2 separate regions of the Homo sapiens genome follow, and region 2 is linked to region 1. A link means that fine-mapping ties the variant in region 1 to the expression of a gene that starts in the linked region. Tissue or cell type: prefrontal cortex. Region 1 holds a variant in brackets; the other region holds the start of a gene. All regions are shown on one strand. Distances are between the middles of the regions.

The links. PIP is the estimated chance that this variant, and not a neighbour inherited with it, causes the effect.
Region 2: FAM149A starts here. The variant in region 1 is fine-mapped to the expression of FAM149A in prefrontal cortex (CommonMind, PIP 0.95).

The regions. Positions count from the first base shown.
Region 1 is chr4:186,149,259-186,156,521 of GRCh38, forward strand. FAM149A (family with sequence similarity 149 member A) reads left to right here. Exons shown (of 14, transcript NM_001395294.1): 2 at 1-25; 3 at 308-446; 4 at 2,645-2,787; 5 at 4,387-4,512; 6 at 5,210-5,380; 7 at 6,742-6,932. Among named protein-coding and RNA genes, the nearest start is that of FLJ38576, 39 kb to the right of the region's middle. RefSeq lists an enhancer at 1-661 and a silencer at 680-875. The variant G/C (reference allele first, on the strand shown) is at 3,658.
Region 2 is chr4:186,100,453-186,107,715 of GRCh38, forward strand. It overlaps FAM149A (family with sequence similarity 149 member A), which reads left to right and starts at 4,252. Exons shown (of 14, transcript NM_001395294.1): 1 at 4,252-5,190. The coding sequence starts at 4,625. LOC124900171 (a long non-coding RNA gene) reads left to right here and starts at 7,242. Exons shown (of 2, transcript XR_007058421.1): 1 at 7,242-7,263. RefSeq lists a silencer at 4,172-4,231.

The DNA.
Region 1 (7,263 bases):
AGAAAGCCATTGATAAATATACCTGGTAAGAATTCACCTTGCTTCAGATTACAAAATCACAAAATGCCCGTAACAAATGTGGGAAGGAAGTTAGTGACTGGCCATGAATTTCTAAAAGTAAGATGCAGTTTTATTTTTAACCTAGTGTAAACATCACACTGTAAAAATATTTCAAAATTAGTATACTGTGAAATTAATAAATATATTTAATGAAAGAAAGAGGAAGCAGGCTCAGAAAAGTGAAGCCACTTAGCCATCCAAGCCCTTCCAGCAAATGTGATTTCTTTGCTCATGTTCATTCCTGCAGCAAATCCTTGTCATCCTTTTCCTCCAGCGGAAGCCATACACCCACGGGAGCCCACACCTCTTGGTCTGGGTCGGCCACACAGAGCTCTACCACCGGCTCATCCACGGAGAGGGGCTCCGTTTATTCCTGGAGAGATGACGTATGTCTCAGAATATTTTGGATAATCTTGTAATTACAGTTTATAGTGAAGAGTTGCTTCCTTATATTCAAAATTATTTTTACCAATTATAAAAGCATGACCTATTGCATACATACATGTACATACATGTAAAAGCATGTACATGTTACATGTGAAAATAATAGATCACGAACCGTGGAGGAAAACAGAACTCCCTCGTGACCTTCTGGCCCCGTCTTAGCTGCCCGCAGTTTTCTTGTTTCCACCCTGCAGCCGGCTCTCCGGGTGTGTGCTCCTTGTGACTTCTTGGATGGTATCCATGGCCGGAAATTCAGGACTTGAATAAGAAAGAAATGCTGGAAAAGTAAAAGCTGTGGCAGCCACTGTGATTAGAGAACTCCCCGCCAGTATTCCCAGTCGGATATTTCACCTTCACCCCCTACCGCTGGGGGCGCTGTTGCCTCTGAACTGCTTTTGTCTGTGTGAGCCTGGGATTCTGGCTGGGCGAGCTCTGCCTCCACTGCTCCAGCTTGCTCAGGAGCTCACTGGCTCCAGTCTCCTCCCTCCCCCTCCCTCCAAGGGTCTCCGTGGATCCCAGGACACAGCCCTCCTTTTTAAGGCCCACCTGGCTGCAGCACCTTGGGTGTTCTGTTTTACCTCGTTTATGCTGGGTGTTTTGTTGTTGTTGTTGTTGTTTTTTGCTTGCTTGCTTTCTCTCTCTCTCTGTCTCTTTTTTTTTTTTTTTTTTTTTTTTGAGACGGAGTCTCGCTCTGTCGCCCAGGCTGGAGTGCAGGGGCGCGATCTCGGCTCACTGCAAGCTCCGCCTCCCGGGTTCACGCCATTCTCCTGCCTCAGCCTCCCGAGTAGCTGGGACCACAGGCGCCCACCACCACGCCCGGCTAATTTTTTGTATTTTTAATAGAGACGGGGTTTCACCGTGTTAGCCAGGATGGTCTCGATCTCCTGACCTCGTGATCCGCCCGTCTCGGCCTCCCAAAGTGCTGGGATTACAGGCGTGAGCCACCGCGTCCGGCCTTTTCTCTCTTTTTTTTTTTTAAGACAGAGTCTTGCTCTGTCACTCAAGCTGAGGTGCAGTGGTGCCATGTCGGCTCACTGCAACCTCCGCCTACCAGGTTCAAGCAATACTCCTGTCTCAGCCTCCCGAGTAGCTGGGATTACAAGTGTGCACCGCCATGCCCAGTTAATTTTTGTATTTTTAGTAGAGACGGTGTTTCACCATGTTGGCCAGGCTGGTTTCGAACTCCTGACGTTGTGATCCGCCTGCCTGGGCCTCCCATGGCATGAGCCACTGCGCCCAGCCTCTTTGCTTTCTTTAAAAGTGGTTCCCCACTCCCACTGCACATGGGAATCCGCTTCTGTCCGCAGCTGTGCAGCTGTGATTCTCAGGGGAGCCGGCAGGGCAGGTGCACCGAGGGGGTCTGAAAGGGACTCAGCTCAGCACTGCTAGGAGGACCTTTCACGCACGCAGCTCCCTTACTTAGGGGCAGCTGCCTCCTTCCTCTCCCTTACGCCCACTCACCACCATCCCTCAAGCCCGCCTTCCTTGGTAGAAGGCTGAGCACCACTGCTTTACTCTGTCCAAATTCTAGGATTCTTTTAGTACAACGTTTAATGGAATTACCAGGGAAATTCGTATAACTTCCATTAATACTCAGGCCTCACCCTAATAACCACACTTCTTAGGATAACTAAGGATTTTTTTTTCCAGTTCATTGATTTAAGGAGATTAATGGCCTTTTCTACAAAAGTAATTTTCTTTTCTGTGGTATCACCAGAAGAAAAAAAAATCTTGTATTTTGCAGGTGTGCTTAGGTGTGTCAGGCACAGCTCTGTGAGGAGCTGCCTGTGTTTGCAGACATACAGATGTGGACGTGTCTGTGTGTCTACGCTGATGTCTGTGGCAGTATGAACACGTCCATCTATACCTCTATCTATGCAAATTCTTGAGTCTCATAACTTCCGTGGCAGAAGTTTTCTCTATTTAACAGTAAAAGAATCCGAGGCTCAGAATGAGATGGCATTTCTCAGAAAGGTAACAGCTAGAGCACAGGTGTGTCTGACTGCAAAGCCACCATCTTTTTACCAAGTGATGCACCCTCCTACATAGTGGGTGACAGTAAATGTATAAGTAGCGTTGATCCAGAAGCCCGCAGTTCTGTAACTTGCAGTGTTGTAACCAAGTGTGCATTTCTGTTTAGGAATTTGACGAAGCCAGTTCACAGTCAGTGCAGCGGTTACTCTGGGAGGTGGAGGAAATGTTATTTGAAGGGAAAGTGAACCCTCAGACCCAGAGTCTGCTGGCCGAATGCGGGGAGTGGACAAGAAGATCCCTCCATTTGAGGTGGGACCTTGGTGGTGGAAGTTCTCTGGGGTGGGTTTTCCAAGCACCCACCCCTGACCTGCCTCGATACATTCAGTACATTTGGTGTGAAAGTGCCTGCCCAGTCAGAATATGGATGCAGAGCGCAGTCCTTCACTGAGAGATCACTTTCCTCTTACGGCGTCTGAGGAAATACTGAGACATTCCAGTACTCAAGCGCCTTTTAATTTGTGAGAAGCAAATTCAGGCCATCCTGAGAAGGGCATGACACATATACGAATGCAAGAATGGTGGAGGCCACCTCTTACCTTCACATTCACTGTGTGTGAGCAGCACATGTCTGTCTTCATCACAGAACACAGCGAGGGTGGGCAGAGATGATTTGCTGAACGGCTGGATAGATGGGTCTTCCCATCTCACCCATTCCTTATGTAGGGAGGAGCATGTGTTACTTTTCATATCAAAGATGGAGAATATGGATTGGGTATGAAGGCAAGCTTTTCTTTTCTTTTTGCTTTTTTTTTTTTTTTTTTTTTTTGAGATGGAGTCTTGCTCTGTCGCCCAGGCTGGAGTGCAGTGGCGCGATCTCAGCTCACTGCAATCTCAGCCTCCTTGGTTCACGCCATCCTCCTGCCTCAGCCTCCCGAGTAGCTGGGACTACAGGCACCTGCCACCACGCCCGGCTAATTTTTTTTATTTTTAGTAGAGACGGGGTTTCACCGTGTTAGCCAGGATGGTCTTGATCTCCTGAACTCGTGATCCGCCCGCCTCAGCCTCCCAAAGTGCTGGGATTACAGGCATGAGCCACCGCGCCCGGCCAAAGGCAAGCTTATCTTTCAGTCACTCAGCCAACGTACTGGGGGACAGTTTATCAAAGTTACCTGAGTTCCT[G/C]TGGATTCTGTCTGGGGAGAATGAATCAGAACACTCATGTAAATGTGGCTGGATTTCCTGGTTACATTCACTAGGTAACTTTTACAGAAATCTTGACCAACTAGGGTTGTTTTTTTTTTTCTTTTCAACCCTTAATAAGCCACCTGCCCTAAAGAGTATGATATGTCCACTAGATACTAGTTGTGGATACTCACTTTTCTGGGGATGATCACTCACCAGAAATTCGGGAGCTCACACTTATTCTTGTCACTGCTGTCTTACATCATTGATAGAAATGGAGGGAAGGTGGGAAAAGATTGTCAGGTACATAAGCCAAGTGTGCATATTTATATATTTGTATTCTTGTTATGTTTGTGTTTAACTGTGTATTAGTTAATATGTATGGAGGGCTTCTTTGTGCCCAGTGTTGCCTTAGACACCTGAGTCTGTCATATATGATCTCTAAGCCATTCATCAGCCCTGCAAGGTAACCATTATTATCCTGTTTTGCAAATGAAAGACAAACAAATGAAATTAGCCTGAGAACCTTGCCTGAGACTGAGTCAGTGGAAGAACAGTCTGGCCTAAACTCTCAAAGTCACACTTCTGTGATGCGTGATGCTTCCCACGTTCCCATACACATCTTATCATACACATGCCTTCAAAATCATTGTCTCCTACTTTTAAAATCTCCAAACATTTTCCCTTTGTCTGATCAAAAATGTCAGTAGCTTCTCTTTGACCTCGCAGAGTATTAGGAAGACAGCTGATCCTGCCCACTGACAAAGGCGTCCAGCATTTCCAGGGCAGCACTCCTGCCTCCGCAGTCCACAGACCCCCGCTCAGTGCCTGCGGACACAGCAGCAACATCAGAGAGTATGTTCAGATAAGTGACTCTCAAAAAGTATTGTTAGCTGTATTTTAGTTATACTTTTTCATGTTTATCTCATCTATAAGCCTTGGCTCCACCCATTTTGGAAATTTAGATTCTGATGAAGGGCAGGTACAGAGAACAATTTTTATAAGAAGCTTTTGATTCTGAATTGATGATAGGTGTATATGTGTGTATATAGAGAGATGTGTAATATATATATGGAACACACATGCACACACATGGTAGTTACCTTCCATGTTTGTTCCAAAGGCGCTGTGAAAGGTGGACTGGGTGCAGGATGGAAACCGCCTCACTGTGATGGATTATAAGCCTCCAGGCGGTGGCAGCAGGAGAAATGAAGCTCTGTCCTGTCGTTTCTGTTCACTAGCAGATTTTGATGACTCTATGCCATTCACACATATTTGGTGTGCCGTGACACAATGCAGTCCTTTCACTGCAACCAAAGAGGGTACAAACTCATAGAATAATTTAGGCTTTTAAGAAGCCCTTAAAATGTTTAATGATGCCTGTATTAAAGTGTTTTTAAGGACGTGAGTTTTGTCCAATGTAATATTCAACCGTTTTGGGAGGGGGGGATTCTGTACTTTACAGATAATTGAAAGATCCGCCATGATCGTTTAAGCATTGCGTTCTTGGTGTTCTATAAACTCCCATGTAGAATCTGTTTTTTTCCCATAGGTTGTGCATTTCTGGCTCTCAAATAGTCCCAGCAGCACTCTCAGCCTCTGCCCTGCCAGGCCCTGATGACACAGGGGTTGCTGACCTAACGGCACGTTCATCCCTGGAAGAAGAGGTTTACCATGTGGATGGAAAGATTGAGGAGTATTTCGCTTTTGACAGAAAAGAGGAGTAAATAGAATCTTATTTGACATTGACCTCATAAAATAATATTAATTTATTTGACATTTATTGTTATCGTATGCTCATTAAGTGTTTTGTGTATTTTTTACTCACCCAAAAGATTTCTGTTCTTTTGAGAGTAATGTACTCCCCAGAGCTTTTGGATTCCTAGCCAGCGGTGCACGTGCGGGAGCAGCGAAGAGGGTGTTCAGTGCCCTTGTAAAAGCAGACAAGGCTCCTCGCAGCCCTGGTCCTGGGGGCTCCAGGTTCCCCAGCCCTGGCTGCCCAAAAGGGCCTAAGGGGAGTTCCTGCCTCTGTACTAAATTCGTATTTTGTTCTTTTTTTTTTTTTGAGACGGAGTCTCGCTCTGTCGCCCAGGCTAGAGTGCAGCCGTGCGAGCTCGGCTGACTGCAAACTCCGCCTCCCGGGTTCACGCCATTCTCCTCCCTCAGCCTCCCGAGTAGCTGGAACTGCAGGCGCCCACCACCACGCCCGGATAATTTTTTGAATTTTTTTTTAGTAGAGACGGGGTTTCACCGTGTTAGCCAGGATGGTGTCGATCTCCTGACCTCGTGATCCTTCTGCCTCGGCCTCCCAAAGTGCTGGGATTACAGGCGTGAGCCACTGTGCCCAGCCTTGTATTTTGTTCTTAATCAAAAACTACAACTATTACATGATAAAACTTTGCCCCGTGATTGAAAATTGGCACATTAAAAAGTAACACTGATAAAACAAGTCTTAACACATTTGAGAAGACTGAAATCAAGCATCTTTTCTGATCTCAGTGGTACAAAACTGAAAGTCAATAACAGGAAGAAAACTAGAAAACTCACAAATATGTGTAAACTAAACAACCTGCTCCTCAACAACCAGGCAGTAGGTCAAAGAAGAAACCTAAAGGGAAATCAAAAAATATAATGAGACAAATTAAAATGGAAACACAACATATTAAAACCAAACTTATGGGGTACAGTAGAAGCAGCTCTAAAAGGGAAGCCTATGGCAATAAATGCCTACATTGAGAAAAAAGACATATCTGAAATAAACAACCTAACTTTATACTTGAAGGAATGAGAAAAAGAACAAACTAAGCCCAAACTTAGTAGAAGGAAGGAAATAACAAAGCTCAGAGCCGAAATAAATGAAGAGACTAGAAAAAAAAAGAAAGATCAATGAAACCAGGAGTTGGTTTCTTGTTTTTATTCATGTGTAATGGAAAAAAATTATATATGTTAAAAAAGAACGATGCTGTTTAACAAAGAATGTTTATTAATATATGTATACATGTACATACGTGAATGTGTGTAGATAGAATTATTTTAACTCTAAGCATTGATCTTTTAGTAATTGGAGTGGGTTTTTATTCTTAGTGATGATGAATGTCTTGAACAAAAACCAGCTCAGCCCGGTAGGAAATGGCGCAAACTCGGACTTCCTCCTGTTTCCCCGCGTGACTGTGTCAAAGATGCCGTGGCAGCAGAAGTGTTTGATCACGTCTGGACAAATATGGTAGAACTTTTGGAAGAGCTGATTAGAAAACACTGGGAAACTACACTCACAGGTACTTACATGCAGAATTTAGCTTAATGAAAAGAAAAAGTCCCTGTTCTTCGGCCCTGGGCTCCTGCTCCCCAGCTTGGCCAGACCTAGAACGTGACCAGTGAGAAGACAAGTGGGTGTTCTGACTTTACTCATGAGTGCTCTTTAGTCCCTTCAAAAAGGACGCTATTGTTTTTTGTGTTATAAAAAATAATGCAGGGCTGGCTGGGTGCGGTGGCTCACGCCTGTAATCCCAGCACTTTGGGAGGCCGAGGCAGGTAGATCACCTGAGGTCAGGAGTTCAAGACCAGCCTGGCCAACATGATGAAAGCCTACCTCTACTAAAAATACAA
Region 2 (7,263 bases), 49 kb before region 1:
ACGCCCTGCTAATTTTGTATTTTTAGTAGAGACAGGGTTTCTACATGTTGGTCAGGCTGGTCTTCAACTCCCAACCTCAGGCAATCCGCCCGCCTCGGCCTCCCGAAGTGCTGAGATTACAGGCATGAGCCATCACGCCTGGCCTTACCCTACATTTCTAATTGTCTATATAAAATCATTAGAAAGAAAGATTAACTATTTACTGTATTTACTTTCATTGCCTGATCCTGCTTGAGCCAGACCACATCACCTGAGGCCCATGTTCTAAGAATGACATGCTGCTGGTAATTAACAGAGAAGCCTGGCCGCATCTACAAAAGGCTGTTGATGGATGAACAATGGGTACAAAGGACTGGACAAGTTGCTAAGAATGGCTTATCACGTTTGCAATTATGGGTCATTTTCAAAGGAAGGCCCTCCAAAGAAAAGGACCCACTATTCTTTCAGTGTGCCTTCTTCATGGGGCTGGCTGGTCAGAATGCTACACCTACTACCGTAACCAAGGATGATACTTCTTCCCCACCACCACCATCTCCTTTTTATGATTCTTGCATTCTCCCTATAGATTTAAAACAATTACGATGACCATTTCAATTTGTAGCCAGTTTTTTAGAGTGAATTTACCCACTAAAGACTTTCATAGAGGTACAAGCAAGATACTATGATCTTGAAGTACCCCAAAATTAATTAATACCCCAATCATGGATCTTTCCTAGGATTGCCATAACAAAGTGCTGGGTGGCTTAAAACAACAGAATTTTTTTTTTTCTCACAGTTCTGGAAATGGGAAGTCCTCACTGAGGTGTTTGTGGGGCCCTGTAGGGGAGGAGTCATCCCTGCCTCTTCTTAGCGTCTGGTAGTGGCCATCAGCCTGGAGCACCCTTCGGCTTGCAGCTGCTTCACTCCAGCCTCTGCCTCTGTCATCCTGTGGTGCTCCCCCTGTGTGTCTGTGCCCACATCTCCCTCTTCTTAAGAGTATACGCATCGTACTGGACAAGGACCCATCCTACTGACCTCAGCTTAACTTGATTACATCTGTGAAGATCCTATTTCCAAATAAGATCACATTCACAAGAACTGGGGGTGGGACTTCAACACATCTTCTGGGGGCACACAACTCAAATGTGCCCACAGCTGGGACACATGCAGACACACCTTAGAGACAGAATGCTTTCAAGGCCAGGATCTGGAAGGGTATGCAGCTGTTCTCTAGCTTTATTTATTATTATTATTATTATTATTATTATTATTATTATTATTATTATTTGAGACGGAGTTTCGCTCTTCTTGCCCAGGCTGGAGTGCAATGGCACGATCTTGACTCACCGCAACATCCGCTTCCTGGGTCCAAGCGATTCCCCTGCCTCAGCCTCCCAAGTAGCTGGGATTACAGGGACCCGGCACCACACCCAGCTAATTTTTGTATTTGTAGTAGAGATGGGGTTTCTCCATGTTGGTCAGGCGGGTCTTGACCTCCCGACTTCAAGTGATCTGCCTGCCTCAGCCTCCCAAAGTGCTTGTCCATAGAAGAGAAGTGGTTATTGAGGGAAACATGGAAAGATCTAGAACCAGAGAGCCCAAGACAGCGGCATGAATGCACCACTGTTCAGGAACAGTTGCTCCTGAAGGAGAAGGGTGCTGGACTCTAATGGTTAATGCCCCCTGTATGTGAACCATATGATTCCTTCCCTTTGCTTTGATTCCACACTCACCTAACAACCATTGGAATTAATTTGGTCCTAAAGGGATTCCTCTTATGGGGAAAGAGCAGAGGATGGAACACTGCATCAGTGCTTTTTTTTTTTTTTTTTTTTTGAGACGGAGTCTCGCATTGTCACCCAGGCTGGAGTGCAGTGGCGAGATCTTGGCTCACTGCAAGCTCCACCTCCCAGGTTCACGCCATTCTCCTGCCTCAGCCTCCCGAGTAGCTGGGACTACAGGCGCCCACCACCACACCCGGCTAATTTTTTGTATTTTTAGTAGAGACAGGGTTTCACCGTGTTAGCCAGGATAGTCTCGATCTCCTGACCTCCTCCGCCCGCTCGGCCTCCCAAAGTGCTGGGATTACAGGCGTGAGCCACCGCACCCGGCCGCATCAGTGCTTTGTGAGTCAGATTAGTGGGGCTCCACACAGAGACACTGGTCAGCTGTGAAGGTGCTGGGCCCATCAGATTTCTGAGTCTGAAATATCAGGAATCCTGAGTTCTGGCAGCAAACAAGTGCTACCCCCAAGGATCTAGGTGAGCTGACTCGAACTTTGCTCCACAATGGCCCTCCCTTGCTGTTATTTCAAGTTCCATATGTTCAGATTCAATGGAGCGACTAGCCCCTTACTCACTGAAAGCACATACTCTAGAAATAACTTCTATTTGCATTGAAAGTGACCTGATATATTAAGGATTTAATTACTCCATGAATCAGAATAAGATCCTTGTAAGATGAACAAAATCTGTGGGAAACTGCTTTGCAGTCCTGAATGAGTGCTACATGAAAACAGTCCAGTGTTCGGAGGGAACGTCCAGACTTCTGAGGCTACCTGGTGAGTGCTGCAGAAGGGGAACAAGGGAGCACGAGAAAAGTTCATGGTTCAACAGCAGCCTGTTCCTGGTGTCTCTGCGTTGTGACGGAGTTGGCACTGCTTCCCTGGTTTGCCCCCAACCCTCTCCCTCTTGTTACCATTGCTGCTCTCAGAGGTGTCTGTTCTTAATTCCCTTTTTCTCTCATTTTGATTCTTCGCTGTGTGCTGGTGCTTCACACGCTGACGACTGCGTGCTCTCGCCTCTCCGAACATCCAAGGGCCTTTAAAATCTCACCCTAGTCACCCATGTCTCTTACTTCCCTTAGGCACACAAATGCTCTGCTGTCCCCAAGCGAATGTTGACCACGATGGCTGCCATCACCTGTGCTTGTCTTCCAGGGCACTCACGGGACACTCAGCATATGACGTGAAGCAGATTATTCCATGCTCTGGGAAGAGAACCGCTCTTTCTTTGCATGTCTGTGCTTAATGCAATCTTGAAGCAGACAAGTGCCCAGTACATGTTGGTGGCAGTTAGATGTAGAAAAGGGATCATGACAGAAGACTTGTTAACTGCCTCCAAATAACGCAAAACTTAGCATTACCTGGAAGTTTACCGTGGCTCAGACTCCAGTTTGATAACTTACAAAAGATTCAAGTATATAAGCATGAATGTCAGTTTATTCACTGCCAGACTTAATTCATCTCTTTTCCCTACCCCACATCAGGAAATGTATCTCCTGAGATCCTCTCCTGAATATTAATGGACAAACTCCATCAATATCTCATTACTATTTTTTTGACACAGGGTCTCACTCTACTGCCCAGGCTGGAATGCAGTGGTGCGATCACGGCTCACTCCAGGCCCAAGCGATCACCTCAGCCTCCCGAGTACCTGGGACTACAGGCATGCGCCACCAGGCCCGGCATTTTTTTTTTTTTTAAATATTTGTAGAGATGGGGTCTCCCTATGTTGTTGCCCAGGCTGGCCTGGAACTCCTGGGCTCAAGCCATCCTCCCACCTCCCAATCCCGGTGCTGGGATTACAGGTATGAGCCACCGAGCCTGGCTGCAGTATCTTATTTTTTAACTCTGTTCAACACTGACCCCACACCCCTTTAGATGCTCGCACCTATACGCTCTACCTTTCACACATATTTTTCAGATTAAGCAAAATACAATTTATTCCACTGAATAGAAAACGTTGCCTTCCATATCTGTCTTTGAATTTGTAGTCGTTCCGATTATAATTTGAGTTCTCAAACATTTGAATTACACAGTCTCTTGGTTCACTCCGACAGGTGTTTAAACAGGTGTGCGTAGGTCTTTCTACTTCAGCTCTCAGAGCCGGTCTTGTTTGCAGGTTAGTGGGTGGCGCACCTCGCGGTTGCTCCCACCCCACCCTTAGTAACAGGGTTTGAGTAGGACCCTGGGGTGGGGGAGTGGATGCTGCTGTTTCAAGCTCGTTCGCCCAAATACATCTTTCTACCCACCTTCCCTATCGTCAGAGAGGTGGCCTGACCCCAGCACGTGCAAGCTTGTCAGGCTGGGTAAGTTCCAGAACCTTCTGGAGCCAGGATTCTCTTTCCCAGCCCTGGGCCCTGAGCTCGGCGGATGGGATCTGCGAGGCTCGGGGCGCAGGGGAAATGGGGGCGTGTTCCTTTAAGGCGGAACCAGGCGGGGAGTGGGACGTCCCCCGCGGGCACAGCCCGAGCCGCACCTGGGGCCCAATTAGCCTGGAGCGCGGCCGGGTGTGTTGAACGTAGCAACCGCGGGCGGCGGGCGGCGGGCGGCGGGCGTCTGGGGCGGGCGGCGGCCGCGCTTCCCGGGGCTCCTGGCCCTTCGGCCCTCGGGGGTCTCACGGCGCTGGGACGAGGCGGGGCTGCTCTCCGCAGCCGGGGCGCTCGGCGGACGGACCCGGGCCGGGGAAGGGCGACCCCAGCGGCGCGGAGCTGAGCGTCCTCGGGGAGGAGAGGGAGCCAGGGGCCTCCGGGGCTCCGGGTGCGGGGACCTCAGGCTCCTCGCCCCGGCCCGGGCCGCCTCGGCCGGATCTCCGCGGTCTGAACTCTCGGGCGGCGGCGAGGACGGCGTGTCCACTGTCGAGGCATGAAGGCTGCTGTGCTGGACCTTGGGTCTCTCTTGGCCAAACTCTTCGAGACCTCGACGGCGCCCCCCGCAGGCCCCTCCTCCAGACCCTCGGGAGGTGCTGCCGCTGCAGGGTCGGGGGGCTCCAGGGCGGGCACCCCGTTGGGTACCGCCCCGACCCTCCTCCGCGCCCTGGCTCCGGACTCCCCCTCCGCCTCGCGGCGGTCGCCCGCCCCGCTGCTCTCCTCCCCCTACTCCCGGGGCTCCGCCGCCAGCCGCGCCGCGGGAGCAGTGGGGACCCTGCTCTCTTGGCCCAGTAGCCCTAGAGCGGGTAAAGCCCCGCCCCAGCCCCCCACTCCCTCCGGCGGGGGCTGCTCCCCTGCTCGCCTGGTGGTCCCAGCGCGGCCGCCCTCGGGCCCCGGCGGGGTCTGGGCCGCGCTCCCCAGGAACCCGCTCCAGCCTGGCCCCGGAGAGCGAGAGCTCGGCGCCTGCGTGGCCCCCGGGGCTGGCCCCAGAACCCTGTTCCTTACGCTGCCTGACATCGGCGAGGAGGGGGCCTCGGACGGCGACTCCGGGGATGGCGAAGCGTGAGTAGCAGCGTGGTCCGGGCGCGTGTACCTTTTGCCGGGACCCCCGACCCCTCCGCCTGCCGCACTCACCTTCGCAGGTGCACTTCAGGAAATGAAATATTTGTAGTAACTTTCATAACCCCCTGGGCACCCTCCTTGCACGTTTCCTGGGTTTTTACTCCTTGGCTTTGCGGGCTTTCAGACATAAGCTGTGACATGCTTTGTCCAGCTTTCTCAGAGTGAATCCTAAGGGGCCTTGAAGGAAGGGACAGAATTTTGTTTCTCTTCTACCAGAAGCATTGCTACTTAGAGTGTTTGTTTGGTTTTCTTAAGGACTTTTTGAAGTCCCTTTCTTTGTCTCAGAATATAGCAGGTGTGCAGGGAAACCGAATACACACGTCTGCAGCAAGTGTTTTAAGAAGTGGTGAGACCTGGTGCTTTCCTAATGTCTAAGGACCAGTCCCTAGTCTTATCCTAAGTGGGATGGGTCTCCTTTGTGTGACATCTAGTTAATTTACATATGCATGACATCATCTGACACAAATGGAGTTGTAATGGCCAGGACACGTCTGATTATTACCCTAGAGCTCCTGAGAGCTTTCCACAGTGCCCTGAGTCACTGCAGAAACGTTGACTTCATGGGAACATTTTCACTGGGAATCGGAGGCCGATTCCCTCAACACACACACACCCACACAACACCCCTTTCACTTCCAAGAGTCGTGATAAAAACATTGCTCTTTTAAAATGTGTTTTAGAACTAGGATGAATTTTAATTTTTAGAGTGGAGCATATCGTTAGCTATTCTTGAGTGGGTAAATTTTCATCCTGAATGCTGCAAAGAAATAGTGAAATGGTCAAAGACAGATGAGCCAATTCACAGACTGAGGTTTCTGCATTGTAATCTAGTGAGGCCATTCCCTACTCCCTCCAAAAAATCCTGAGTAATTTTTGCATTCATACTGATCCTGACTCACTCACAATTTAAATAATTACAGTTTCACAAAATTGAATGATATTCATGTCAATATGAAAACAAGCGGCCGGGCACGGTGGCTCACGCCTGTAATCCCAGCACTTTGGGAGGCCGAGGCGGGCGGATCATGAGGTCAGGAGATCGAGACCATCCTGGCTAACACGATGAAACCCCGTCTCTACTAAAAATACAAAAAATTAGCCGGGCGTGGTGGTACGTGCCTGTAGTCCCAGCTACTCGGAAGGCTGAGGCAAGAGGATGATGGCGTGAACCCGGGAGGCGGAGCTTGCAGTGAGCCAAGATCGCACCATTGCGCTCCAACCTGGGCGACAGAGAGAGAGACTCCGTCTCAAAAAAACAACAACAAAAAAGAAAATAAGCAGTTAAGCAAAAAGTTGTTCCCACTCATTAAAAAATACTATATTATGACATATGTTTATCAACTGATAGTTTTCCCTATCAGTTAATTGCTTTTGGAAAACTCACTGGAATACATATGCCTGAGGAATTAGATCTTTGTTATTGGCAACTGGTCCTTAACATTTATGCAATTAATGTTTTATGAGCAAACAGATCTACACACTGACCTTAAACTCTAGTCTTAGTGCTTTTAACAAATAGGCACTGAAATATGCAGCATGGCCAGTGAAACTGGTGTTAGTTTCAATTCTTGAACATATTAGCTCATGTTTATATTGTGCAAATATTTGGAATAGATACTTTTTGAATAACACTGCATTTGGCATTATTTACATAAGAGATTATTCTGAATTAACAAATGCATTCAATTTTATGGACAGTGAAGAAATTGAATTTTTAAATTATTATTACTTTTTGAGATGAGGTCTCCTTCTGTCACCCAGGTTGGAGTGCAGTGGTATGATCACTGTTCATTGCAGCCTCAACCTCCCAGGCTCAAGCGATCTGATTCTCCCGTCTCAGACTCTCGAGTAGCTGGGACTACAGGTGTGAGCTACTATGCCTGGCCAATTTTAAAAATGTTTCTGTGGAGACGGGGTCTCCCTATGTTGCCCAGGCTGGTCTTGAACTCCTGGCCTCAAGCAATCTTCCCACCTGGGCATTGCTGGGATTACAGGCATGAGCCACTGCATCTG